Regions from separate parts of the Homo sapiens genome. Here all the other regions are linked to region 2. Evidence: fine-mapped expression QTL. A gene starts in region 2. Each other region holds a variant in brackets. All regions are shown on one strand. Distances are between the middles of the regions.

What was found. PIP is the estimated chance that this variant, and not a neighbour inherited with it, causes the effect.
Region 1: its variant is fine-mapped to the expression of SLC4A8 in whole blood (TOPMed, PIP above 0.99).
Region 3: its variant is fine-mapped to the expression of SLC4A8 in spinal cord (GTEx, PIP 0.91).
Region 4: its variant is fine-mapped to the expression of SLC4A8 in whole blood (TOPMed, PIP above 0.99).
Region 5: its variant is fine-mapped to the expression of SLC4A8 in whole blood (INTERVAL, PIP above 0.99).

What each region holds. Positions count from the first base shown.
Region 1 is chr12:51,397,335-51,403,272 of GRCh38, reverse strand. It overlaps a transcript of SLC4A8 not described here. Among named protein-coding and RNA genes, the nearest start is that of GALNT6, 8.9 kb to the right of the region's middle. The variant GGT/T (reference allele first, on the strand shown) is at 2,681.
Region 2 is chr12:51,421,051-51,426,642 of GRCh38, reverse strand. SLC4A8 (solute carrier family 4 member 8) reads right to left here and starts at 1,812. Exons shown (of 25, transcript NM_001039960.3): 1 at 1,608-1,812. The coding sequence starts at 1,655. It overlaps SLC4A8-AS1 (SLC4A8 antisense RNA 1), which reads left to right and starts at 1,315. Exons shown (of 3, transcript XR_001749147.2): 1 at 1,315-1,403; 2 at 2,044-2,156; 3 at 4,466-4,744. RefSeq lists an enhancer at 1,194-1,253 and silencers at 1,364-1,573, 1,844-2,053.
Region 3 is chr12:51,358,376-51,364,313 of GRCh38, reverse strand. It overlaps GALNT6 (polypeptide N-acetylgalactosaminyltransferase 6), which reads left to right. Exons shown (of 12, transcript NM_007210.4): 6 at 1-193; 7 at 3,476-3,593; 8 at 4,982-5,182. Among named protein-coding and RNA genes, the nearest start is that of CELA1, 15 kb to the right of the region's middle. The variant T/C (reference allele first, on the strand shown) is at 3,469.
Region 4 is chr12:51,529,110-51,535,047 of GRCh38, reverse strand. No RefSeq gene overlaps it. Among named protein-coding and RNA genes, the nearest start is that of SCN8A, 59 kb to the left of the region's middle. RefSeq lists an enhancer at 2,787-2,846. The variant A/G (reference allele first, on the strand shown) is at 3,527.
Region 5 is chr12:51,370,637-51,376,574 of GRCh38, reverse strand. All of the region lies in intron 4 of GALNT6 (polypeptide N-acetylgalactosaminyltransferase 6), which reads left to right. Among named protein-coding and RNA genes, the nearest start is that of GALNT6, 18 kb to the left of the region's middle. RefSeq lists an enhancer at 4,695-5,261. The variant C/T (reference allele first, on the strand shown) is at 3,172.

The DNA of each region.
Region 1 (5,938 bases), 24 kb after region 2:
CCTTCTGTTCAGGCTTGAGTGGCCCCAACTCAGTAAAGTTTAGGTATCCTGGGTCTCCCCGGCGGTAGCGAGGAGTGCTTCTGAGTTTGTTGCTGTTGTTCTTGTTGAACATAGAGCATTTATTATGTTCTGAGCACTGTTCTGAGCAGTTTATACCTATTACCTAATCTAAATTTCACAACAGACTCTATATAATTGTCCTTTAAAAAAAAATGAAAACAGGCTAAACAACTTACCCATGACTACAGAACTGCCAGCTAACTGGGGGACTTCATGCAGTCATTCTCAGAGTCTCTCCTTTCACTGGGGGGGATTCTATCAGGGACCCCCAGTCCCATACTGAGACATGCCTCTCCCATAGCATCTGGCCATGGGATAACGCTGTGAAGAACAGGATAAGTGACAAGCACCCCCAGAAGACACCCGTCTTTGCCCATCACTGGCAAGGAGAGTGGAATCACCATATGGTGCTTAGATTAATTGCAAAGGGACAAATAAATGCCTAGGAGTCAACTACCCTGACCACTTTAGCTTTCATTTTTTATTTTTTGAGATGGAGTTTCACTCTTGTACCCCAGGTTGGAGTGCAATGGCGCGGTCTCGGCTCACTGCAACCTCCACCTCCCAGGTTCAAAAGATTCTCCTGCCTCAGTCTCCCAGGTAGCTGGGATTACAGGTACACGCCACTACACCCAGGTAATTTTTGCATTTTTAGTAGGGACGGGGTTTCACCATGTTGGCCAGGCTGGTCCCAAACTCCCGACCTCAGGTGATCCACGCACCTTAGCCTCCCAAAGTGTTGAGATTACAGGCGTGAGCTACTGTGCCAGGCCTCACTTTAGCCTTTAAATTTAGCACCTGTGAGTTTATCGGGGTAGCAAATGCCAGGACAGGATAACACCATAGAGAGCCCATCAGCACAGCAGGGCTTCTTCTCCCTCTATTCTTGAAGCATTCTAGCTTTGCACCCCTTAAGTCACTCAATTGTTTGGCAAACCTGGAATGGTTTCCCTTCAACAACAGCTGAATCCCAGGATATTCCAAGTCTTGATGATTAGGGAGTGAAGCCAATATCTTTTCAAAGTCTGAGCTCACCCCCTGTTGTAACCATATATGCCTGTCAAATCTTACTCTAGTCTTGCATAACACACATATATCAAGGCATCACTTCAGGTCTGTTTCTCCTGGTGGTTAAGATACGAAGGGGCCAGACACTGTGGCTCATGCCTGTAATTCCAGCACTTTGGGAGGCTGAAGGAGGAGGATCACTTAAGCTCAGATGTTTGAGACCAGCCTGGGCAACATAGGGAGATCCCATCTCTACAAAAAAAAATAGAAAAATTAGCTGGGTGTGGTTGCACATGTCTGTACTCCCAGCTACTCAGGGGGCTGAGGTGGGAGGATTGCTTGAGCCTGGGGAGGCTGAGGCTGCATTGAAGAGTTGATATGGGAGTGGGGCAGGGAAGTGCTGGGAAGGGAAGGGGGTGGTCCCTGGCTAGGGCTGCACCCCCAGGCCTGTGCCCAGGGACCTAGGTGAGGACAGGCATTTCTGTTTTCATGCCCAAACGTTGCATTTCCCAAGACCACCGTGGCCCACCACAGTCCTATCCTGTGCCTATAAAAACCCCGAGACCCGAGCGGGCAGAGACACAAGCGGCTGGACGTCAAGAGGAACAGATCAGTAGAGGAACGCACAGGCAGCTGGACATCGAGAGGAATACACTGGTGGAAGAGCATACCAACATGCAGTGGCAGATGCCAGCACGCTGGCACGCCATCGGCCCACGGAAAGACATAGAGTTTGCCTGGGGCAGTCAGAGGAGAGCCCAGCTGCTGAGCGGCCCAACTCAGGGGAAAACCACCTTTCCACTCCATCTCCCTTCTGGCTCCCCTATCTACTGAGAGCTACTTAAAATCAATAAAACCTTGCACTCATTCTCCAAGCCCACATATGATCTGATTTTTCCGGTACACCAAGGCAAGAACCCGGGATACAGAAAACCTCGCGATAAGGCAGAGGGTCTAATCCAGCTGGTTAGCACAGCCGCCTACAGACGGCAAAATTAAAAGAGCACACGGTAGCACACGCCCACTGGGGCTAGGAGCTGTAAACACTAACTGGCGACAGAGGAACGCTCCGTCTCAAACAAACAAAAGAAAAACATGTTGGCACTGTCCAAAGGTAGACGCTGCCGTGGGATCTGAACCCCACAACCTGCCCATCTGTATGTTCCATAGAGATTTCAGCAGCCGGGCCCTAAAGAAGCGAGCCACTCCCCTTGTTGCACTCCCTGTGAGGGGGACAAGGGAACCTTTCCCGTTTCACCGTGACGGTGCCACTGCACTCCAGCCTGGGCAACAGAGTGAGACCCTGTTTAAAAATATATATATATGTATATACATATATATGTTTATATACGTATATAAACATATATGTTTATATACGTATATAAACATATATGTTTATATATGTGTGTGTGTGTGTGTATGTATGTATATATATATATATATATATATATATATATATATATATATATATATATATAAAGGAGTTCATTCACACTCCTCTCAAGTACCGTTGGAAAAAAGTTATGTCATATAAACAAACTAGACAATCTATACCCCAGTCACCTTTTCCATTGAGTGGTTAAAGGATTCACAGACCCCTGAGGTGTTCTAG[GGT/T]ATCCCATCAAACTGATATAACTCTATGGGCAACTGAGAGTGTGTTTTGTGTTTTTTGTTTTTTCCTCACTAACCATGGTTTTTTTTCTTAGTACCACTCCTCCCCAAACAACAGCATCAAATACCACCAACTCCCTGCCTGGCAGTGGGTCCCAACTCTGAGAAAACCTATACACATCTATACACATTACAATTGTACGTGACTATTTTGCCCACTACCACAGTGGGGGATTTAAAGGTCTTCGATGATAGTAGCTCTTCAAAGAGTTTCTGTAAATTCCTGATTTCAAACAATAAAATCTATTTTAATCTGCCCTCAGCAAACATAACTTACATTCCATTCATGGAGAAAGAAAAGGTTATTCTACTTTAGGGCTTCCTTTGCAGTCTTTCCTCCTGATCTCTGGGTGGTTAGAAATCCTTGAGATCAAAGGCCTCTGGATTTATCTGCAGGTCCAGGTGGAACAAACCCAGGAGAGGGCCAAGGGGCAGTGCTTGGGTCTGCATGGCCTCTGCCCACTCCACCCACCACACCCAGGAGGAGGGACCACTTCGTACCTCTGTGCTACCTTTGGACAGTGCCAACATGGTTTTTTTTTTTTTTTTTTTTGAGACGAAGTGTTGCTCTGTCACCAGACTGGAGTGCAGTCACGCAATCTCAGCTCACTGCAACCTCCACCTCCCAGGTTCAAGCGATTCCCCTGCCTCAGCCTACCAAGTAGCTGGGATTATAGGAACGCATCACCATGCCCAGCTAATTTTTTGTATTTTAGTAGAGACAGCGTTTCACCATGTTGGCCAAGATGATCTCAATCTCCTGACCTCGTGATCTGCCTGCCTCAGCCTTCCAAAGAGCTGGGATTACAAGCGTGAGCCACCACGCCTGGCCCAACATGTTTTAAAGGCTAGATTTAAGATCAGACAGCTGGAAGAGTCAGGATTCAACCCAGGTCTCACTCCAAAACTGTTTTCACTTTGCCAAAATTGAATGCTGCTGATATGTCCGTCTACCTAGAAAATCAAGAGAATCCTCTGGAAATCTATCAGAGCCACAAAGAGAGCTCAGTAAGAGGACTACTTTTAAAATAACTTTAACCATTATGGGCAATGTAATAAAAAAAAAATTAAGAAGCTGCTATTTAAAGTACTTGCCAAAATCAGGGTGACTCCTCTGAACTATGTTTCTAGAAAGAATCAAAAGAAATCAGTAACAGTGGCTGCCTTTGGGGAGGAAAACTAGGTGACTGCAGATGGGAGAAGGAGGGAGACTCCCTCTTCACTATACTTTTGAGCTTTAGATTTTTTTTGCCATATGCACATATCACCTATTGAAAATAAGTAAATAAGATTCCACGGGAATTAATAAACAATGAGGCAAACATTTTAGGATATTAAGAGGACATTAAACATCTGGACTCATCTACCAATGAGTTATTCTATCACCTCTCCTTTACTTACAATCCAAAGTAATATTAATATCAGATAGACTTCAATCCTAATGAAATTTGTGATTTTTCAAATGTCTAAGAAAACAGAAACTTCAGCCAGGTGTGGTGGCTCACGCCTGTAATCCCAGCACTTTGGGAGGCCAAGGAAGGTGGATCACCTGAGATCAGGAGTTCAAGACCAGCCTGACCAACATGGTGAAACCCCATCTCTACAAAAATACAAAAATTAGTTGGGCGTGGTTGCGCACGCCTGTAATCCTAGCTACTCCAGAGGCTGAGACAGGAGAATCGCTTGAACCCGGGAGGCAGAGATTGCAATGAGCCGAGATCAGGCCACTGCACTCCAGACTGCGCGACAGAGCGAGACTCTCTCTCAAAAAAAGAAAAAAAGAAAGAAACAGAAACTTCTCTTTTTTTAGGGGAAGATAACAGGTTTTGCTTTTAGCTGGAGGATTGTTTGCTCTGCGGAGTTAGTTTATAGCCCCTTTTATTACCTCTCTTTGGGCAAAACAACTGTCAGATTGAAATCCAATTAAGATTTCAGAAGGTTAAATGTGCATATGTTTCTTCTTTTAAAGAGAGATATTAAATAAGAAATCATAATTTTGAGCAGAAAAAGCTCTCACAGCAAAATCTTACAAGCATTTGGATGTTTTATTCATTGCAGTTGTGAAATTTCTCTACTGTGAAAGGACAGATCTTGGGCACTTGATTGCTTTTAAGGAGATGATCTTGTGTGATTTAAGTAGAAAGTCCATAGTTACAGTTTGACAACCCCAAGAGAGGAACACTTATTAATTGTATGATATTAGGAGGCTTCGGTTATACAAAAGAAAGACTGATCAAGAGTCTCCTAAAATAGGTAATATAAAATGCCAAGGAATCATTTTAACAAGAGCTGTAAAGATTAGGAGAGAGAACACTAGAAAACTTTTCTGAGGATCATAAACTAGAAACTTGAATAAATGGAGAGACAGACTTGCAAAAAGTAGTGGCTAAGGGCTCAGACTGCAGTTACAGGGAACTGCTGTGCTTATAAAATTCTCACTTGTAAAAATAAGGATACTCGAGCAGAACGCAGTGGCTCACGGATTTAATCCTAGCACTTTGGGAGGCTGAGGTGGGTGGATCACTTGAGCTCAGGAGTTTGAGACCTCCTGGGTCTCACCTCAGCCTCCTCCCGAGTAGCTGGGACTATAGGCACACACAACCATGCCTGGCTAATTTTTGTACTTTTTATAGAGACAGGGGTCTCACTATGTTGCCCAGGCTGGTCTCAAACTCCTGGACACAAGCAATCCTCCCGTCTTAGCCTCCCAAAGTGCTAGGATTACAGGCATTATCCAACACTGCTAAGTTATAACACCATCAATTTAAGATACATACCAATTTCAGATATGTTAAAGATTTTTAAAAATGCACCTTAGAATTGATGAAATTTATATGTACATATAAATCATATATGCATAGAAAAAGAGCAGACTATATCATACCAAAATAGCAACATTGGTTATCTCTAGGTAACATAATTATGGATAACTTGTCTTCTTTTTTTGTGATTTTCTGTGCATCTGAAATTTTGCACATTGAAAATGTGATATTTGGATCATTAGGAAAAATAATATATTCCCCATCCCACCTGACTCTTTCAACCCTTCTCCCTGTCTCTTATTCTCCTCTCTGTTCTCTTTATGTTCTTTGTCCACGTCCCAATCCAATGCCATGCTAAGCCAAATTGGAGCTTGAGGCAAAAGGAAAAATACAAGCTCCTGGCTTTAAGGCAAGCAAACTCATTAGTCATATTTTCA
Region 2 (5,592 bases):
TTTTGTGTAGCTGTTCTCTTTGCCTCTCAGGCCCTGTGATCCCCCTCTTCCCTCAGTTAACATTTATTCATCCTTTAGCTCTTTGCCCAGATTTTCTTCCTTAGCAAAATCTTCTCTGAGACCATGTCTGGAACCACTGTTATACACGCTTATGGCACTGCCTATCTTTCTTCAAAGCATTTATCACAGTTTATGATATTTATTTGTGTGATATTTGATTAAAAATAGTACTTCTCCCCTCCCCCACTAAATGATACGCTCCAGGAGGGCAAGAACATTGCCTATTTTTTCTTACCATTGTATCCCAAACAGAGATTGAATACATTTAATAGGCTTTAAGGGGGTTAGATATGCATTTTCCAAAATCTTAGATATTGTTCTTTTCAGACAGAGCAAGGAAAGAAGGATGTATCTTCTATTAATTGTAGCAAACTATTAACCAGGAAGAAGAGGAGAGAGTCAGTGTCTGATACTCATTTTGTTGCAAACTCAGGATATTTTCCCTGCCTCCTCGGGGAAACCATCCCTGAGGTCAACATGGCACTTGTTTCCAAGACGTGTCATCCTTCCTGAGATGGCCCATTACCCTCTTCAGAGCCCTGTACTTCAGACTTGCCTCCTCTTCCAACCCTCTTTCCAAGGCAGAAACCACACCATCTGATTGCACAGGAAACGGGGAGTGAGAATTCAATGGGCTGCCACTCATTCACTGAGTGTCACACAATAAACATTACTCCACAAAGCCCTTTCACAAACAGCACTTCGTCTGATCCTCAAAACAACCCTGTGAAGCATGCAAAGCAGACATAACTATTCCCATTTTAATAGCTGGGGAAACTGAGGTTCAAAGAGGCAAGTGACTTACTCAAGGTCACAAAGTTTGTGTGAGGCAGAGGTAGGATTTCAAACTACAGACTCTAACACTTAGTCCAATGCTTTTCCTTACATTAGCCGCCCCAACAGTTCCAATACCAGTTACTTAACCTTGGTTTTTTAATTCCCTTAAATAAGCACCTGTTCCTGACCCCTCCACACATCCTCAGCCCAGTTTGCAGTCCCTACCCAGAAGTTTTCAGGTGTCTGTTCAATGGGGCAGAGGGAGTCACAAACCGGGTCACCCTATCAGGGATTGGTCCCAGCCTCCAGAGTCTTTTCTGGCTTTTCCTCTGAACCACTGAGGAACCAGAAACCCCCAGAAATAAAAACACAAAGAGAAGACGTGCCCCACCAGAGCAAGGTCCCTGCTACCCTTTCTGCCCACGTTCTGGCAGGACAACGCGAGGCCAGACGCCGGCCCCTTCCAACAGAAAGACGCGAGGAGAACAAGAGGTCGCCGCCCGCCGGCTGTCAGGGCTCCTGGGCGGGCGGCGCAAGGGATGCGGCAGAGATGGGCCAGATCCCAGGTTCGGCCCAAGGTCACTCTCTCGCAGCCCTGGCCTGGTCCCCAACCGCCCGGAGCGCCCCCTGGTGTCCCGGGCTGGCCTCCCCTCGCCCTCAGGGAGCGGCCTGGGAAGCCTGGGCTCGGGGGCAGAAGGAAGGAGGGTGGGCAGAGGATGAGGAGGCTGCGCCCCGGGGAGGAGCGGGAGGCGCGGGAGGCGGGGCCCTACCTGATAGCTGAGGACGCCGTCCGGCTCGTTACTCCCGGCGGCCGGCATGGCGGAGCCGAACTAGGTCTCCCCCACGGGCTCCAAGCCAAGCATCAGCAGCCCGCGCCCTCTGGTCGGGTCTGAGCAGATCACTCGAACGGCGACCCCCACCCCGGAGCCAACGGTCAACCATCAACCGCCGCCGCCTCCATAGCCACCGGCCCGCGAGGCATCCGCCGCAACCAATCAGCGAGAGGCCTGCGCAGCCAATCAGGGCGCGGAGCACGGGAGGACGCTGTCCGGCGGTACCCTGGGCTACCGCGGGGAGGGGGAGGAGCCGGGGAGCCAACCGCTCCCGGGCCCGGTTGCCTTGGAAACCGCCTCCCTCCCTTCAGGGGCCTCTGGGCGTGAAGGTCCTTCCAACTGCTTGCTAGAAAATCTCTGCTTCTATTTGCAGCTGCACCTGACCCTTGAAAACTGGGAAAGTGTCGGTTTTGCCTATTCTGATTTCATTCCTTGGGAGATGATGTTTAAATTCCGGGCAAACATCCTTCGCGATTGCAGGAGGAGGTAATTGCGGATGAGGGGAGAGGGCCTTCTAAAATTAATTGTTTTTCCTTGAGCTAATGGCCAGATTAAAGAGCATTAAATTGAAGAAGGCAGGCAGTGTCAGGCTCCCTCACAGTCTCACTATGACTTAGGTCTTCTTCTTGAGTCTCAAGTCAGAAGCAAAACACACGGACAGGGTCGAGCTAAGGATGACTGTTGAAGCAATTCCACAAAAAGGCTTCGAACTTTTCCAGGAAATGATCTAAGGCAAACTATTATTTAGCAACAGAACTACTGACTTAACACAAGGTTAGAATATCATGAATAATGCATTAAATTTGATTTGGATTTATAAGAAAAGAGAGGCTGGCTAAAATCGAAGCAACCCTCTCTCCTCAAGAAAAAGAAAGGTACCTTTTGGGTTTTTTTTGTTTTTTTTTTGTTGTTTTTTTTGTTTTTTTTTTTTTTTTGGAGACGAAGTTTCACTCTTGTTGCCCAGGCTGGAGTGCAATGGCGTGTTCTTGGATCACTGCAACCTCCGCCTATCCAGTTCAAGCGATTCTCCTGCCTCAGCCTCCTGAGTAGCTGGGATTACAGGTCCCCACCACCACGCCCGGCTGATTTTTTTGTATTTGTAGTAGAGACGGGGTTTCACCATGTTGGCCAGGCTGGTCTGGAACTCCTGACCTCAGGTGATCTGCCCGCCTCAGCCACCCAAGGTGCTGGGATTACAGGCGTGAGCCATGGCACCCGGCCGTGGGGCCTTTTGTTTTATATGCACTATCATACCAGACTTCAGGTAGGTCCAAATTGGGGTCAGGGGAAGAATTGTTGCAAATAATTCTCAGCCCCTAAAGAAGCTACAGTTGGGGAAGGTAGTCTGATACATGTTAAAACTTTCCACCCCTGCTTACCATCCTTTGTGTTGGTCCTGAAATTGGAAACAAGGTTGGGCTTCAGTATCCCTGAAGCAGAATTGTATTTCTGATGTCCTGTATAAGCCTCCTGTCTAGTCTCTGCGTTTTAGTGTTCATTGCCACACACTCCATCAATCTCTTTACTAATCCTGTCATCTTGAATCTGGAATTCACATCCTACCCTCATCCCCATTTTTGTCCATCAAAATCTTAACCATCCTTCAAAGTTAATCTCAAAAGCCACCCTCTTCCAAGAAGCCTTTCTTTATTCTACTGTCCCTGATACCCCTAACAGATGTCATCTCACCCTCCCCAGAATTCTCAAGGCACTTCATACCTTTCTTATAGCAGTTGTCATGCTGTGGTTATTTAAGTACTTTATATGTTGACTTTAGCTTACTAAAATATTATAAGTTCTTTGAAAGCAATGATTATTTTTCTTATGCCCTTCTGTATACTCAACAGAGCCTCAACCAATCCCAGGCACATAGAAAGTACTTAGTAAATATGAATGCTTTTAATTCAATCTAATAAAAAATGTATTGAACACCTACTAATGAACAGGCCCAAGTAACACTGTAGAGGCAGAGAAATCTAAAATATATATCTCCAAGGGAGCTTAACAGGCTTATCAGGGAAACAGGGTATATGTTAATGAGTAATATTATATAAACCATGAAGATTGCAAAAATTCAGAAGAGAAAATGATCTTCAGGAAGGTTTCACAGAGGACATGGATTCGAGCTAAGTCTGAAAACATGGGTAAGATTTAGCTGACCCAAGGTAAGAAGAGCAAGCATCTCAAGTCTTAGGCAAAGACTTAAGAATAATAATGCACATGGCCCATTCAGGGTAGCCACAATTTGGGCCAAAGCAGAAAGTTATTGAGAAGAGCAGTGGGAGGTAATAGTTGTGATAGAGAAAGGCTGTGGGCTGGGCATGGTGGCTCACACTTGTAATCCCAGCACTTTGGGAGGCCAAGACAGATGGATCCCTTGAACCCAACAGTTCAAGACCAACTTGGGCCAACATGTAGAAATTCCATCTCTATTTTTAAAATACAAAAAAATTAGCCAGGCATGGTGGCATGCACCTGCAGTCCCAGCCCCTCAGGAAGCTGAAGTGGGAGGATCACCTGAGCCCAGGAGAGGCTTCAGTATACCACTCCACTCCAGCCGAGGTGACAGAGTGAGACCCTGTCTCAAAAAAATAAAAAATAAATAAAATAAAAGGCTGTGATCAAATTGTGGAGATCTGGCTAATTCATTCAGACTTTATTTTTCTTAAATGATAAAAAGCAGGACGCTGAAGGCTTTAGGGAAAACTTCCACACACCAGAACCTGGGTTTAGTGGTATAAATGCATTGTGTCATTTAATAGTCATAATGTCTCTACTCTTTTTCTATTTCACAGGTAAAAAACTGAGGCTCAGTGAAGTTAAGCAACTTACTCAAGGTCAGGCAGTCATGAAGCTGGGATTCCATCATTCATCTATTAATTCAAAACACTTTTGCTGAGAACCTATGTATCGTGCCCTATGTTAGGTGTTGGGAAAACAGCAATTAAGACAGTGTCCTTGGCCTCATAAGCCTTACAATCAAGTGGGAGAAAGTAAACAAGTCATCAAACAAGATAACCGCTAGTTATAATCACTACTGTTAAGTAAATAAAGAGTTATGTGATCAAGAGTAACTGGCATGGGATAGGGAGAGCTTCTCTGAGGAGGTGGGGAAAGATTCACCTGAGGAGACGAGTCAAGAACAAGCTCTCTGATTCTAGAGTTCTTGACCACTATGTTGTATTGGCCTATAAAAATTGTACCATCTCCAAAATCTGCCCTTAGGGGAGAATGGATTAGAGGGGGAAACCTGAGGCAGGGCGTCAGAAAGACTGACTCTAGCAACGTGGTAATTCAGGAGCCGAGGATGGTGGCCAAAGGAAAGATGTGCCCACATCCCCCACTCCCCTGGAAGGCAAGTCCCAGCCATGGCAGAAGTGGAGTAGGTAGGGTAGGGAAAGGAATTGAGAAGTAGTGGTGATTCCTGGGAGGACTGGTGGATCTGACTTCTCTCCAGTACAAATGTGGAAAAAGTCAGAGCCTCTGGCCCTTGACTCCAGGGTCAAGAGCCCCATCTTCTGGCCTATTGTGCAAATTACAAAAGGAAGTAGGCCACAGAGGCAGCAGCTAAGGCTGCTGCTATCTGGGGCACTGCAGAAGACAGGCTCTATCCTCCCAGGGATGATTTGGTCTCTCCTTCCCAGAAAAAGCTGGTTCACTTGGCTCTAAGCACGAGGCTCCTAACATCTACTGCTCCTTACCCTGGTTGGAAAAGCTCAAACACATGGCTCTCAGCCTGGCTGGAAGACAAGTCCTAGTGGAGCTGGGGGTATTCAGCCAAGGACATCACCTCACACTGATTATTTTTCTAAAGAAATCAGAAAAAAACAGCAGAACAGAATTCAGAGCCTTCTTGAATCTTCAGTCAGCCCAGAAAGAGGCATAAAGTGGACAAGAAAATGGAAAATACATGTGTAGAGGC
Region 3 (5,938 bases), 63 kb after region 2:
TCGCTGAGGACAAGACAGTGGTGGTGAGCCCAGACATCGTCACCATCGACCTTAATACTTTTGAGTTCGCCAAGCCCGTCCAGAGGGGCAGAGTCCATAGCCGAGGCAACTTTGACTGGAGCCTGACCTTCGGCTGGGAAACACTTCCTCCACATGAGAAGCAGAGGCGCAAGGATGAAACCTACCCCATCAAGTAAGGACCGCAGCCTGGTGAGCCCCCAACCTGGCCCCAGTCCTACCCAGTTCCAGGAACCTGTGCCATCTCACATCAACATTTGTTAGGTGCTCTATCAAGCACTTGACATATTGTGATTAATCCTCACTCCCTATGAAGCAGGTACAATACTAAGAATACTAAGGCTCATAGTGATAAACACTGACCTAAGATCATGCAGCTAGCAACAGTGGAGCAAGGACACACTTCCCGGACTGTCTGGCCCTAACCGTGGCACTGCTCTTATTCACCATGACAGTTTGCTCTTATTCACCACTTACCATGTGCCAGGCACTGAACTAAGGGCTATACATTCTTTAGTTTATTCCTCCCTACACATAAAAGGAGTGGCCCATGCTTGCAGATGGGGCAAGAGATGTGATGGAGGCCATTGTGGAATAGTCACTGTAATAAGAGGGAGTGGTATGTGCCCCCAGGTGACTGTCTTTGAAAAGACTGAGAATATACTAAAAGAAAACAGACACATTTTCTGCAGCGTGAAGTTTGTAGCAGTTGCCCTGAACTTCTTTGGTGAAGGGCCAGATGATAAATATTTTGGGCTTTGCCAGCCACATATAGTTTGCTGCATATTCTTCATCTTATTTATTTTTTATTTTTTTTACAAACATTAAAAAATGTAAAAATAATTTTTTGCCCCAGAGGCTTCTAAAACCAGGCAGCCAGATTTTGCCCACAGGCTCTTGTGTGCCAGCCCCTGAGCTGCAGGGTAGACAATTGGAAGTCAACCCACAGTTTAATGCCCACTGGGCTCACCTTTCCCTCTTATACTCACCCCATCCTCCCCTCTCCAGGCAGCCTGTTGGTGTTATTGGAGACTGTAAGTTTATTTTAACAGTTGTCTCAGACAAACCAAGTTGAGGAGTGACTTTTAGTGTAGCCTGTGGTTTGGGATTATTTGTGTCATTGTTATCTTAGACTGGCCAGTATACTTAAGGCTCAACTGAATATACATCCAGGACGGAGGGATGCAGAGGTTGGAGATACAGTAGCCAGAGATAAGAGGGAAGGTTTGAAAGGAGGAAAGGATTGGTGCTTCTTCCTCTCCACGTGCCCAGAATCCTAAAAAATGCTGTCCATGCCAGGCACAGTGGCCCACACCTGTAATCCCAGCTAGATGAGAGGCTGAGGTGGATTAGGTGGATTGCTTGAGCTCAGGAGTTTAACAACAGCCTGGGCAGCATAGCAAGACCCCATCTCTTAAAAAAGAAAAAGAAAAAAAAAAAAACCTGCTCAGAGTCCCAGTAGAAAGGAACTCAGGTGAATGCCACAGGGAGAAATCCCACAGATCCTGAACAGCCAGCTGCTCTGTCTCCATTAGAAGGAGAGAGGGAAAGGAAAAGGCAAAAGAGAGAAAAGAAATTGGAACTTTCCACTGACCCAATGTTTGTTTCATAGCTGCCTTTTGTTTGGTGTGCACTGCAACAGATCCCCACCCCCACCCCCATGCCAGTGACCAGGCACACAGCAGCACAGTCAGAAAGAGGGCACCTGGCCCCCACCCATCACTGACGTCGCAGGCTTCAATGTCCAAGGGCCATACAACTGGAAGACAAAGCTCCAGTGTTTGAGGAATGAATGTGCTCCTTGGCCCACATGCCCCGGTAGCATGCATGGCTTGCCGAGGCTCTTCATGTAGCGCCCCCACCCCAGGAGGACTGCTGACAGTCCCCTCCCGGCCTCCCATCTCAAGCCAACCAGAGCCTAAGAGGAGAGGCAGAGGACCTGGGGGATTCTAGGGGTAGGCCAGGACATAAAGGGTGTTTACTAGAGGTTGCCTGTGGTTGTGAATTTACAGTGAAGCTTCCCATGCAGGGTTTGTCCTCATGGCTAATCCATCAGTGACTTCTCGGTCTGGGAGACTTCTCAAAGACAAGACTCAGGGCCTGTGGGGGAGGAAGCAGGTTGGCTTCCAAGTGCTCCTCTGCAGTTCCAGCACTCTCTGAGCCTCTCAGGGTGCTACTTGTGCCGGTTTAAGACCCCTGGGAGAGGCCAGAGCCTCTTCCAAAGTGATAGGAAGCCAGCCTGAGCACGACTGAAATTCCTTCCAGAAAGTGGCTGCAGGAGCCAACTTCAGGTAGACAAGAGCAACCACAGGGTAACACCAGGGTCACATTCCTGGGTAGGCACCTTGATGGATCATGCGAATGAACAGTGATTGGGCCCCAGCTGTGTGTAAGGCACCTAGATAGGTTCTGGGGTTACAGGGGTTCTGTATCTTTCTGCTTGGTTGTACCACATGAAGCTGCCCACTGAGGGCAGCAAAGCCCTAGCCATGCCAGGCTGGCCCAAACAGAAACCAGCAGCTGATGATTGTGCTCCTGCCATGTCTCACCGGCCCCCACCCCAGCATTCCATCTTGCTTATACTTCCCCGGGTCCGCTTCGATACCCTAACGCTTAGCCCAGTCCCTCTTCGAAGCAACCTGGTATCTAAATTCTAGGAATTAGATGTTTTTGTCAATTTATCTTATCTTGAGTCCACACCTCCCTGCCTGTGTCTGAAAGCCAGAATCTTTTTATAACCTTCTAAATGTTCCCTGTAGCCCAAATTGAGCTTGATCTCACCTGACCTTCCACTGTTTCCAGGAGCACCTTTTATCAGCTTTCTCTGTTAAAAGCAACTGGCAACTTCTCCCCAAATCTACAGTTTCTCATGCAGTGTAAATCACCAGGGCTAGGCGCCTACTAAAACTGTGGCTTAATAGTCCCTGAGGGGCAGGGGCCCTGAAACAGAATGGAGTCAGCCCAGCTGACAATATTCATTCATTCATTTATTCATGGTTTGAATCCTGCCTATTTTCAAAAACAATTTCACACAGCTTCTGAAAGTTGAGTATCTCCTAGGCTCCAGGCACTTTGCTGCCAAAAAGTAACTAATGGTAGCTTTAACCTCTGTGACTAGATTGAGCTCTGGGGGAATAGGATCTGTCTTTCTCCGTTCTGTGTGTCCATCATGTAGCACGGGCCCTGGTGGCCAGTGTTACGTGCATCCTAGGTTGAACGAATGAATGAGTGCCTTTTAGAGGATAATTACATATTTCCTTGACCTGGTCCTAGAAGGGGAAGAGGACATAGTAAAAGCTAAATGATGAGTGAGTTAGTGGATGAGGGGCTGCACGTCCTGAGAAAGAGGAAAGGAGGGGGAGGTGGGTTAGGAGGGGAGTCCACAAACAGCTTTCCCCGCCAGGCTCCGCTCCTCCTCTCCCAGAAGATGCACACACTTCTCCCTCTGTC[T/C]CTCCAGATCCCCGACGTTTGCTGGTGGCCTCTTCTCCATCTCCAAGTCCTACTTTGAGCACATCGGTACCTATGATAATCAGATGGAGATCTGGGGAGGGGAGAACGTGGAAATGTCCTTCCGGGTGAGAGTGAAGAGGGCTTTGGGGGGAACCACAACATCCCAGGCGACAGCTTGAGAAACATCTCTCAGGCAGAGGTGGCATCAGGGACATCCCATCTGGAACTGAACTAGAAAGGGTGGCTATTTCCCAGTGTGTCTCTTCCTCTTTTCTGCTCCCCCTGTCCATGGCAGTAGGGCTTGGGCAGTCAGCCTGGACAGCTCAAAACAAACTACTGGGCACAACTTCTCAGAGGCAAGGAATAATAGGGGTAATGAGGACTGGACATCTGGTGACTGGGGACTCTTTTGCGATGTCTGTGGGAAAGGGTTAGGGTGAAGATAGAAACAGGTTAGTATGTTCACAACTAGGGCTAGAAAAAAAAAACAGATGAGTAACCAGTCATCATCCTTTTTCTGGAAAAATCAGGCTCCCCTTCCCAGTTCAAAGGACACATGCCCTGGTAACCTTTGAAGTTTCCCTACCTATGTACAATAAGCCCTTCATAACAGTCAGAGAAGATGGTGGCCCCAACTCTGGTGGACCCCAGAACTCTGAGAGATTCCAGGAATTAGGCAAATCAGGATTAGGTCAGGAAGCAAGGATTGCCTCTCCATGAAACCTACACAAATCTCCATGCCATGGAAAAGTAATTAGTAAGTAGATGAGCTCATTTATGAAGTCACCTCTCACGGTGCCTGATGCATATTAAGCACGTAATTGATGCCTGCTGTTACTATAACGATTATGTATTTCTGTTGCTGCCACACTAAAATGAATAACAACATACTTTCCCACCTAAAACCCAAAAGAAGAAACCAGTGGGAGGGATGTCTTCAGCCAGCCCACCAGCATAGAAAAGGGTCACCTGCCAGTCACCCCAACTCCCAGCGGCCCAATCCTAGGCTCCTCCATGAGCCTCTGACCTCTGTTCACCTTCCTAGGCAGCCAGTGTGCTAAGGGCCCAAGTGACTACCACTAGCCACCTAGCAGCCAACTATCCTTGCTATTAATTAACAGACTGATGCTCTGGTTTTTATCACCTGAGGGAGCTGATAAACTCACATTTCCAGGTCAAAAAGCCAAGTGATCAGAGCTCAGAGTAGGTATACAGGCACAGGTAACAAAAATTAACCAGCAGGCTTTTCCCTAAAGTGGGCCCTGGTAAACACAGGACCCTGCAGTCTCCCTGTGCTTAAGTCAGAGTGAACCAACATCAGAAAGCCTGGGATCGTGTAGTCATGGCCTAGGAAGAAGCCTGGTCGGTATCCTTTTTCCCAGGGAGAGAGAGCAGCATTTGCCCAAGTCCTTGGACCTGGGGTCTGGTGCTCTGGGAATAGAATAGAGCTGCTTATGGGGAGACTGTCTCACCTAGCCCACTGAAGGCCTCATCCTGTCTCCTCTTACATCAGGTGTGGCAGTGTGGGGGCCAGCTGGAGATCATCCCCTGCTCTGTCGTAGGCCATGTGTTCCGGACCAAGAGCCCCCACACCTTCCCCAAGGGCACTAGTGTCATTGCTCGCAATCAAGTGCGCCTGGCAGAGGTCTGGATGGACAGCTACAAGAAGATTTTCTATAGGAGAAATCTGCAGGCAGCAAAGATGGCCCAAGAGGTGAGAGGAAATGGTTCTCGGAGAGGTTTAGATGAAGAGAAGTACGGCCCCCAGACCCTGTTCATGGGCCTAATGGCTGGGACCCACCTCATCTCTACCATCTGGCGCCTCCCTTCACCCTCAGGGACCTGTGAGCTAGAGCCCAGGAGAAGGCCACAAGGCACATAGGTTTCAAAAGCTAGAGAATGTTGTCCCTACGCATAGAGTCTCTGCATCCCTTTGGAGGGGAAGGGAGGGAAAGGAGATTTGGAGGAAAAGCCTCTTACGGAGGCTTTGGAGGCTTTGGAGGAATGGCTCTGAGAGCCTCGGCACTGGGGAGTGGGACATAATTGTCTGGGGAGTCACAGGAGATGGACCGATAAGCAGGGGACTCCAAAGCTAAGGCGGGGTTTTTGGGATTGGATGTGAGGGCTGGGCCAGTATCTTTAACAGGTCCTGAGTGGGAATGAACATGAGAGACAGTAGCCCCAGGCGCTCCATGCTATCTGCACTACTTCAGCCCAGACAGGAAGGTCAAAGACTGGTGGAACTGGCTGGGTGTGGTGGCTCACGCCTGTAATCCCAGCACTTAGGGAGGCCGAGGCGGGCAGATCACCTAAGGTGAGGGGTTTGAGACCAGCCTGGCCAACATGGTGAAACCTCATCTCTACTAAAAATACAAAAATTAATTGGGCGTGGTGGTGCGCGACTGTAGTCCCAGCTACTCAGGAGGCTGAGGCAGGTGAATCGCTTGAACCCAGGAGGGGAAGGTTGCAG
Region 4 (5,938 bases), 110 kb before region 2:
CCCGGTGCACTATGATGTTTCTTTTCTACTCTATTCCGTTTCATTTGTTTTAGTGCTGGTCTCACCTGTGGATGAGCCTCTCCCTGGGACTCTGCCCCACGTGGCCTCATCTCCACCAAGCCCCCGCACACTGCCAAGACCCAGGGCTTCCGTGCTGGGACCCACTTTACCCAGAGATGGAATCTTTATTTGTGTCTCCGCCCAGACACCACCCCTTCCGAAAGGCCTCCCCTGCCTACCCTGGCTAAAGGCACACACCTCACATATAACCCCATCATTCTCCGTCCCCTTACCCTCTTTCTGTGTCTTTGTGGCACTGATCACAGCCTGCTCTTATGTCACATACATGTGCCATGTGTTCGCTTACTGGCTTTTCCCTGTCTAGAAAGTCAGCGGCATGAAACCAGGACTGTTATCTGTTTGGCTCCCTGCTGTGTCCTACTGCCTGGTGCACAGCAGCCACGAAATAAATATCACTTCACTGTAGAATTCTCCAAGTTTCTAAATACAAGTCAAGAAAACATGACTTGACTAAACCTGGGACTTCCTTCCTTTTCCCTCCTAAGGATGGACAGCCCCGGCTTCCCTGGCTGCTTGCATGACAGCTCTGTTCTCTGCTGCCTGCACCATCCCCCCCCGCCCCCGCCCCGCCACCAGTGTGTGTGCAGCTTTTATGGAATAATCAGCCTCTCTTTGCTTGCGTTTGGCTATTCCTGCAGCCTTCTTGGCAACCTTTTTTTTTTTTTCCAGCAAGAATAAGCGAGGAAAGAAAAGTGGGAGAGGAGGAAGAGGAAGAGGAGGAAGGGGAGGAGAAAGACAAGGCTCTGGTTTTCCCCAGCACCATTTCTCTTGCACTGAAGAATTGTCACTCTTGGCCATCAGGTTTCTACAAGCTCACCCAGTCCATATCCCTGACTTTGACATGCTCTGCCAGTGTCTAAATTATTTCTGCATAAAATGACTTAGGGGCTCTCTTTGACTACATTCAGTAGCTCAGTGTTTTCTGGATGCAAATTGCTCCTACCTCTTAAAGGCTGTACTTTACTCCCCCTTTCGACCATTGTGGAGGGAGAGTTACTGTTAATTTCCTAATAATTATGGGCTCTACAAGGGGGATTCAATTGTTAAGTAGAAAAAAAGAGGAATATAGCAATGTGAGCAACATACACAGAATATTAATGTTTGTTTAAAAGGAGAAGTTGGAGAATATGTATTTAGTTTTTGATTGGAAATACATAAAATGCACAGAAAATATACAGAAGAAATGATAACATTGTTTCCCTCTGGAAAGTTCCTTGAGAGCAGAAAAACTTTATAGTTAGCTATTCTAAGCATTTAATCACCAACTAATTTGCCCATGCAGGTGGACAAGAAGGTAAATTCAAATTGTGTTGAAGAAAAGAAAGCAGTTTGTCTCTGGGTGCTTTGTCTGCTTATGAAAGGTGAGGACTCTGATATCATCTAGGGTGAAACTGTTGTGAAGCAGATGGAGGAAATTGATCTTTGATATTAAAGGCCATTTTAAGAACTTTGTAAGCCCCAGAGACTCCTAGTTTTATTATAGCAAATATATTAAAACACACTCATATCCTATGTTAAATATAATTTGCCCTATAATTTTTTTTTTTTTTTTTGAGATAGGGTCTTGCTCTGTCACCCAGGCTGGAGTGCAGTGGCACCAACACGGCTCACTGCAGCCTCTACCTCCTGGGCTCAAGCGATCCTCCCACCTCAGCCTCCTGAGTAGATGGGACTACAGCTACTCAGGAGGCTGAGTAGAGAAGGTCCCACCATGTTGCCCAGGCTGGTCTTGAATTCCTGAGCTCAAGTGACCCACTACGCCCTGGCCTCCCAAAAGTGTGCTGGGATTATCCACCGTGCCTGACCCTGCCCTGTAAGTTTGAAAGGAATTTTATAATTTTGCTTTGGAAATTATTTGGCGATGAGTAATATTTAATTTATTATTGGCTACGATTACTCAGGAGTCACCATCTCTACCCAGGAATTCTTAAGAAGTGAAAAAAATCTAACCCACAAAATTCTTTTCAAATGGAATAAATATTTATAAATACTAAATTTAACAATTAATGAAATTGACAATGTTATGTTTTACTGATGTCTAATTAAGCATTTATAAATTTTGTTTTACTGGGCTTTTTTTTTTTTTTTTTGGCATTTGGACCCAGTAACTTCTTTTTGGGTCCACAAGATAAAATGGCACTATTGATATGTGTCCCCCACCTGTTCTTCTGGAATCTCTACCCCAGGGTAAATGGGACTTTATTACCCTCCTGCCTCCCTCCAACCCCCCAGCCCCTCCCCAGCTTTATCCAGTCAACTCTCTTCAGAAGTTCCTCATGCTCAACTTTTTCCTCTTTTTTTCTTTACCCTTCTTCCTTTTCTCATCTTTCTTTGGCACCCAAAACATTTCTGATAACACCTCGGCTCTCCGCACTCTGAGCTCTATTAATTTGCTAATGTCCTAAATGTTTAATGACTCACAGTCCAGGCAACTTGGTTATGTCTTTTCATAGTTACATTTTAATTGGGCCTTTTTAGAGATACAACACTTGAATTCAAAAGGCTCTCTTTAATGATGTGAATTTAGGGCTTAGTTGTGGGAGATATTTCTAGGGAGGTGCAAAATCCTTTGGGAGTAAATTCCAGCAACAAAAAAAATCCTCTTCCCCTGGGAGCTCACAGATGAGCTGAGGAGGTAACATGTAATGCATAACCAGGACATAAGGTAGACGGCACCATTAGGGACGCGTAGAGGAAGGGCGTGGGGGCTTACAGCAGAGAGCTTGCTTTCAGCTGCGGGAATCAGAGGAGGTTACCTGGAGGAAGCGACATTTGAGTTGGACCCTAAAGGATGGGTGGGGTTTGGAGCCCTGGTGCTTCTGGCTCACTCCTTCCCTTCTAACCAGCTGCCGTTCATGAGTTCCTCCAGCAGAGGGCAGGCATAGCAAAGACGGGAAGGAGAGTCCGATTCTTCAGCCCAGTCTTGAGTGGGGCTTTGCATGCCCAGAACTGTCTAGACGGCTTTCTGGGTTTACTAAGAAGGGGCGGTAACTGAAACCTGGTGCCACCTGCCCTGGTGCCACCTCTCCATGGACACTAAGGTGCCCTTTCTAGAGCAGTCAGGCCGGGCAGGTTTGGGCAGTCCAGCCTGGGGAAGGGGAGAGGACTGCCTTTCTGGGTTGCCATGGGAGTTTATTCCCCACTCTCCCTAAGGAACTGGGAGCCGAGGTATGGGTTGCTTTGGTGCTTAAAGTATTTCTCTGTCTATGGTCAGATGAGACAATAATTCATGCTCAAGTGGTTTACTAAGGAAATATTCCCAAGAAAATATTATAAGGAAGTGGGGACAGTAGAATAGGGAAAGAGTAAATGCCAGGCAAGTGTCTGATTTGGGGTGAAGTCCCAGCCTCAGCCTGATGCCTGAGGGAGCTCCAGGGGCGTGCCTTGCAGCACAGAGTTTGCCCTCCCTCAGGGCAAAGGAACAGGGCTTTGTACTGCTGCACCC[A/G]TCAATGGCTGACCACGGCTGCCCCAGGGGGACGTCAACTGGCAGCCCCTTCCAGTTCTTGGTGCATCTGGGTGACTTAGCCCCAGGAGCCCGTGCTTTATCGTCTGAAGACAGGTGTTGATAGGAGCCATCGACAGTGAACATACACAGCTGGAAAGGGGATCTGAGGACAGCTGGGTGCGGCTCCGACCGCCTTTGCTACTCTCTCCAAGGCCCCTTCTATTTATCCAGTCTCCCCATGACCAAAGACTTTGTCTTGCAGACAGAACTACCACTGGGGAAACCCAGGAAGATTCCAAGCCCTCTTGTCTTTTCAGAAGAGATCATTTCTGGTCTCTCAGCACCTCTGGTCTTGCTCTGGGGAACCTGTATTTTTATTGCAGGAGTCCTCACCTCTGTCCCCTAATCCCTTCTACCCCAGCTCCTCAAAATGCATCCCTTCAGAGTTCTCCACCCTCAGCTAATTGTCAGTTCGGGCATTGACGTTCCCCATGGATGCATTAATGGCAGAGAGATGCTCTGACAGGCACTGTGTTTTACCCAGCTCTCCCTTCTGTTACCACTCAAGTGGGAGCTCTCCGAGAGCAAGGGCTGTTTCTCATTCCTTGCCCAGGCCTGCCTGATGGAGTGGGTCTCTAAGTGCAGTTCCTGGACCTCCAGCATCAGGCTCACGGCAAGTGCGTTTTATAATCTTAACTTCCCCGCCAGCCCCCATCCCACCGCACACACACAAAAGGGGTCTGGAAATCAGCCTCTTTCACAAACTTCCTAAGTAATTCTGGTGCTCATTAAAGAATGAGAGCCATGGCCCAAGCACTCAAGGGGCAAATGAGTCCTCCAGAGAACTTTCAGGAACCCCCATGGCACACTTTCACCTTTGTCAAGCCACATCTCACCTTCTCAAGGAGCCCCACCCCCGTCCCAGTGCTCCTGATCCCCTGTACCTATTCTACTTCTTCCTACCATAGCATTATCACCTTTTTCATTATGTGTATCGCTTAGTCTCTCACCTTCCCCCATTAGAACATGAGCTCCATGAGGGCAGGGATCTTTGTCTGGCTGACTGCTATGTCCCAGTGCCTGGAATGCAGTATCCACACATGGTTGGTGTTCAAAAACACGTGTTGCATGAATGAATGAAGTAATTGTGTGGAGAGGCATCAGAGTAACTGAAGACAAAGATCATTACAAATTATCCACTTCTAAACTTCTTTGATAACAGACATTGCATTATCTGTGCCCTGAGACCCCCCTCAGATTCAATGACTTACTGGCAGGACTCACAGGACTCCGAAAAGCTGATATACTCACAGTTATGGTTCATTACAGGGAAAGGATACAGATGAACATCAGCAAAGGGACAAAGTAGGTGGCGATGTCCAGGAGAAATCAGGCAATCAGGCTCAACCTTCTAGGTGTCCTCTCCCAGTGGGCCTGACGGGAATGCAGTTAATTCCCCCAAAAACTATGCATGACAACACGTGCAAAATATTACCAACCAGGGATGAGCCTTGTTGTCCAGGGGTTTTATGTGGTGGCAGTACCCACATGACTTATTTTAGCCACTCAGTCTCTAGTTCCCCACGCTACTGAGAGGTCAAACTGTTGGTGCACAGCCCAGGCAGGGCCTTAGGCATACAAAACCAGACATTCACCATAAATCACTTTATTAGCACAAACTGGTCAGACTGATAGTGTGGCCTAAGGCCTGGGGCATAGAAAAAAAGTCAACCAGGCAGGATCTTCCAAGGGCTCAAAGGTCACCTCCCAGGAGCCAGTCAAGGGCCCAGTCCTTTCTTTGGAATGTGCAAGGTTTGAGCAACCCATACCTGCTGCGTTAACCCTTTCCTGCGCAGACACCAGTAAGCAGATTCTCAACATGGCCCCAACTGAGACTGTTCTGTAATTAATCTATGTGGTTGGTATTGGTCTGACTTCTCCCCAGATATTATTGTGCCTAATTAAGTTATACTTGCAGGCTAACTTACCTCAGGGTTGGGTCATATATTCATTTCACAGGGTTAATGAGCACGTACTGTGTGCTAGATATGGTGCTTTATGGGGAATGCAAAAATGGACATGGCAGACATGGTCCGTGTCTCAGGAAGTTTAGTCTAGTCTAGTTACAGGTCAGTTCTTGGACTTTGGCATATGAAGGATTCCTTGGAGATAACAACCCACTCTGAGGGCAAGCAGGAAGAAGAGATGACTGTGGAGTGAAGATGATGAAGGTGCGGGAGAGAAAGCCTCTTCCCTGTCATTAGCTCTGCCCTTTGAACCTTCAGCAAGCAGATCCTGGGAGATTCCTGTGGCTTGTCTGAGGCACTGGAGATTTGCTTGGAGCAAGGCTGCCTTCCAAGATAAAGGGCAGCCAGGAAAAACCTTAATGCTCTATCCATATTTATGTATCAA
Region 5 (5,938 bases), 50 kb after region 2:
CACAACCTCCGCCTCCCAGGTTCAAGCGATTCTCCTGCCTCAGCCTCCCTAGTAGCTGGGATTACAGGCATGTGCCACCACACCCAGCTAATTTTGTATTTTTAATAGAGATGGGGTTTCTCCATGTTGGTCAGGTTGGTCTCGAACTCCCGAACTCAGGTAATCTGCCTGCTCCAGCCTCCCAAAGTGCTGGGATTACAGGCATGAGCCACCGTGCCCGGCCAGAAGCCTCTTACAACACTAGCCACAGTGCTGTGGCAGTGATGCACCTGTAACAGGTGTGAAAGGGCATGGACTGCAGAGTCCAACACCTAGGAATTCAAATCCCAGCTCTGACCCTTCCTAGCTCTGTGACCTTGGACAAGCATTTGGCCTCCCTGAACCTGTTTCCTCTTCAAAAAATGGGGGCAGACCGGGCACAGTGGCTCAAGCCTGTAATTTCAGCACTTTGGGAGGCTGAAGCGGACAGATCACTTGAGGTCAGGAGTTTGAGACCAGCCTGGCCAACATGGTGAAACCCCATCTCTACCCAAAATACAAAAAATAATTAGCCAGGTGTGGTGGTGCGCGCTTGTAGTCCCAGCTGCTCGGGAGGCTGAGGCACAAGAATCACCTGAACCCGGGAGGCGTAGGCTGCAGTGAGCCAAGATGGCACCACTGCTTTTCTGCCTGAGAGACAGAGTGAGACTCCTTCTCAAAAAAACAAAACAAAAAAAAGGACTGGGCGTGGTGGCTCACGCCTGTAATCCTAGCACTCTGGGAGGCCGAGGCAGGCAGATTGCTTAAGGTCAGGAGTTCGAGACAGCCCGGCCAATATGGTGAAACCCCGTATCTACTAAAAATACAAAAATTAGCCAGGCGTGGCAGAGCATGCCTGTAGTCCCAACTACTCGGGAGGCTGAGGCAGGAGAATCGCTTGAACCCAGGAGGCGGAGGTTGCAGTGAGCCGAGATCATGTTACTGCACTCCAGCCTGGGCTACAGAGTGAGACTCCATCTCAAAAAAAAAAAAAAAGAGCAGTTGAGTCCCTTACATGGTGGGTGAGGGATATGAGATAGGTCATAAATGAGATTCATGTGCCACAGAGTGGCTGGCATCAAGTAAGAGTGTCACAAGCATGCATTCCATTTTATTCATGGTACGAGAACAATGCACCATGGAGTATGTAGCCAGGAGGTGCCATTTCTGCCTGGCGTGGCTAGGGCTGGTCTGCAGTGGAAGCCAGATTGGAGCTGGGCCTTAAAGGATGAGTGTCTAAGAGAGAAGAGTGGATGAAGGGCATTCCCACAAGAGAATGGCATAAGCACAGTCCTAAAGACATGAATGTGTTTGTTAAAGAGATCTGGTGTGGCTGAAGCTTAGGTTTGTTTAGGAAATGAGACTTAAAAGATGTTAAATTGGCCAGGGACAGTGGCTCACCCCTGTAATCCCAGCACTTAGGGAGGCCGAGGCGGGTGGATCACTTGAGCCCAGGAGTTCAAGACAGCCTGGGCAACATGTCAAGACCTTTTTTCTATAAAAATTACAAAAATTAGCCTGGCATGACGGCATGTGCCTGTAGTCCCAGCTACTCGGGAGGCTGAGCCAGAGCATGACCCTGTCTCAAAAAAAAAAATGTTGAATTGACATTCATGTCATGCTAAAAGCATTTATTTAGAAAGTAAGAAGGAGTCGTTGAAAGTGTTTCATCTGTACTGTGACTTCATTTCAGAAGGATGGCAGCTTTGGAGGAGGATAATCGGCAGGAAGAGAGGCAGAGGACTCACAGTCTGGAGAGGAAGTTCTTACACTCACTTGAGAGTAGGAGATGATGGGGCCTGAACTAGGAAAGGCTGTGGGACTGAGACACCTTTAGGCTGAGAGTCTCCACAAGCTTAGCCCTCCTCGTAGGAGGCATGTGGTGTCTGGGGCTCTCCCAGATTGACCTCCTGTGCTCAAACTCCCAATAGTGAGGGCAGGAACTGACTCCACACTTCCCAGTGTAAGCGCTGGGGCCACTCCAGTAGAGCTGCTTCCTGTCCTTGTCCTCCCCCAGCCTCCCTCCTTCCTCTAGGTTAGGGGTGATGCTGAAAAGAGGACTAGGGCTGTGGAAGGAAGGGCTGAGTGTGAGCCCTGTTGAGTTCATTTCTTCAGGAAGCTCACATCTTCCCAGGGAAGACAGATACTTGGCAGCACTTATAAAGCAAGGCCAGACCAGCCTGGGCAACATATCAAAATCCCATCTCTACAAAAATAAAAAATTAGCAGGCATGGTGGTATTTGCCTGTGGTCCCAGCTACTTGGGAGGCTGAGGTGGGAGGATCACTTGAGCCCAGGAAATTGAGGCTGCAGTGAGCTGTGATTGCACCATTGCACTCCAGCATGGATGGCAGAGTGAGACCTTGTCTCTAAAAAAGATACAAATAAAGTAAAATAGGCCAAGCACAGTAGCTCATGCCTGTAATCCCAGAACTTTGGGAGGCTGTGGCAGGAGGATTGCTTGAGGCCAGGAGTTCAAGACCAGCCTGGGCAATGTCACAAGACCCCATCTCTATAAAAAATAGAAAAGTTAGCTGGGCACGGTGGCATGTGCCTGTGGTTCCAGCTACTTGGAGGGCTGAGGTGGAAGGATTGCTTGAGCCCAGCAGGCTGAGACTGCAGTGAGCCTTGACTGCACCATTGTACTCCAGCCTAGGCAATAGAGTGAGACCCAGTCTCTAAAAAAAAATAATAAATAAATCAAGGCAAGCAAGTATCAGGGATGCAATGACAGGGTCTGGTGGACAAGGAATGTATAGATTAGGCTTCTGGAAAGGGAAGGGTGAAGAGTTTGGCAGAGATGGGAGGAGCTTGGCAGTGATCTCTAGGGAATCTTTGTAGCAATGGAAAGGTTGTATGGAATGGAAGCAAGCATATTAGCGGTCCTTCCTCTCAAACTGGGTTCTTTCGTTATCTTTCTCCTCCTAACCCTATGCTACCCATCCTTCGGAAGCTCTTTCACCTGAATCTCTTGTACTGGAGTGTATTAGTCCATTCTCATTTATAAAGGAGAGAGGTTTAATTAACTCACAGTTCTGCAGGGCTGGGGAGACCTCAGGAAACCTATAATCATGGCAGAAGGGGAAGCAAACATGTCCTTCCTCATGAGGTGTCAGGAGAGAGAAGAATGAGAGCCGAGCAAAAGGGGAAGCC[C/T]CTCATAAAACCATCAGATTTCGTGAGAACTTACTATCACAAGGATAGCATGGTGGAAACTGCCCCATGATTCAATTATCTCCCACTGGGTCCCTTCCATCACATGTGGGGATTATGGGACCTACGACTCAAGATGAGATTTGGGTGAGGAAACAGCCAAACCATATCATTTCACCACTAACCCCTCCCAAATCTCATGTCCTCACATTTCAAAACACAATCATGCCTTTCCAACAGTCCCCCCAAAGTCTTAGCTAATTCCAGCATTAACCCAAAAGTCCAAGTCCAAACTCCCATCTGAGACAAGGCAAGTCCCTTCCCCTATGAGCCTGTAAAATCAAAAGCAAGTTAAGTCACTTCCTAGATACAATGGAGGTATAGGCATTGCGTAAATACAACCATTTGAAATGGGAGAAATTAGCCAAAACAGAGGGGCTACAGGCCCCATGCAAATCGAAAATCCAACAGGGCATTCATTAAGCCTTAAAGTTCCAAAGTGATTTCCTTTGACTTCGTGTCTCACATCCAGGTCACGCTGATGCAAGAGGTGGGCTCCCGTAGCCTTGGACGTGGGGGTTCTAAACTGTTAACTTTTCACCCTAAACTTTGTGACTCTGTGAGCTGCAAGTGCCCAGGTAGGCAACTCCTCTGACTAGCTAGACAAGTGACATAATGCCAGGCTGGCATAGGCAGCATCTAACAGGCAGAGTAGCCTGTGTTCAGTAGGGCAGAGTTGGCAGTAGCCCCAGTATCCCCTCCAGAGCACCCGCCCCTAGCAGGCCACCATATACACGTTCACCTTCTCTCTGTCTGTCCTGGACTTGTTGCCCTGGACTCTCTTCTAAAGCCAATTCTCTCCAAAGGCCAATTCCAGCATCTCTAAATCATCTGCATGGTCAGGACGCACTGGCTCACACCTGTAATCCCAGCACTTTGGGAGGCTGAGGTGGGAAAATCACTTGAGCCCAGGAGTTCAAGACCATCCTGGGCAACATAGTAAGACTCTGTCTTTACAAAAAAATAAAAAATTAGCTGGGCATGGTGGTATGTGCCTGTAGTCCCAGCTACTCGAGAGGCTGAGGTGGGAGGGTCACCTGAACTCAGGAGGTCAAGGTTGCAGTGAGCCCTGATCATGCCACTGTATTCAGCATGGGTGACAGAGCGACACCCTGTGTCAAAAACAAAAACAAAACAATCACCTGCCTGAAAAACCTAAGCTAGTCATTCTTATTTTTCTGGGTCCTGGCATCCTTTCAGAATCTGTTAAAATCCCTAGAATAGTGCACCACTGCCCACAATAATATGCAAAACCCACATTTTTGCATTTAATTCCAGGGAATTTGTGGACCCTATGATAAACAACCCTACCCAGAGGGCTTTCAGACGCTAGAGATACTTTAAGCAACATTCAGTTCAGTGAGGAAAGGAGGAAAAAACCCTCAGATCCATGGTCAGAAATCTCTGCCGTCCACAGTGGGATAAAATTTCCCACACGTTTGACTGTTTGATCAGATTAACCAGCTCTCATTACACACACACACAAACAGGACTGTGTCTCTGCCGAAATACAATGTCCCTGCTCTCTGACCTCCACTCCAGGCACCCAGTAGTAGCCCTATGAGAGTGAGTCTAAGGGCATTTGATACCATGGGGGAGGAGACCGCGTGCTGAGCTGGGGAGCTTTTTCTTCCCCACCTCTGAGTCAGAACCAGGGCACAGACCTCATTCCTGAGTGGCTAGGTCAGCAGCCAGGGTTCCCTCCCTGTCTGGCACACTCCACCAGCTTAACTAAATTAGAGGGAAAAAAAAGAAGAATGCAGGGCAATGGGTTAGTGAGTGAGTAATTAGGGAGCTCTTTTCACCGGAGTAGCCAGGAAAGACTACTCTTAGTACTCCCTGCAAAGGGAGCAGCCAACACAGAGGCCTGAGGCTTGACTTGTTAATGAGGCAGAAAGAAGACAGTGTGGCTTAAACAAAGTAAGCCAGGGAGCAGAAAGAGTGCTGGTGGAGTGGGTGTAAGGAGCCGGGCCCATGGCTCATGCCTGTTAATTCCAGCACTTTGAGAGGCCGAGGCAAGAGAACCCTTGAGGTCAGGAGTTTGGGACCAGCCTGGCCAACATGGAGAAACCCCGTCTCTACTAAAAATACAAAAATTAGCCAGGCATGGTGGTGGGCACCTGTAATCCCAGCTACTCAGGAGGCTGAGGCAGAAGAATTGCTTGAACCCCGGAGGCGGAGGTTGCAGTGAGCTGAGATCACACCATTGCACTCCAGCCTGGGCGACAAGAGCAAAACTCCATCTCAAATAATAATAATAATAATAATAATAATAATAATAATAATAATAATTTTTTAAAAGGCTAGCGGGACCAAATTGTGAGACCTCCGTAAGCCACCGACAGTGTTTGGATTTTTCATGTGTGTATGTAGTAAAAGGCACGACATAAAACGTATCATCTTCACGGTTTCAGTCCACAGTTTATTGATTTTAAATGCATTCACATTATTGTGCAACCATCTCCGGAACTTTTTTTTTTCCCTTTTTTAATAAGATGGGGTCTCACCATGTTGACCAGGCTGGTCTGGAACTCCCAGCCTCCCAAAGTGCTAGGATTACATGCGTGAGTCACCACAACCAGCCAATAACTTATTTTTTGTCATCCCAAACTGAAATTCTGTACCTATTAAACATGAATTCTCCACGCTGTCCTCCCCACAACCCCTGGCAACCACCCTTCTACTTTCTGTCTCTATGAATTTGATTATC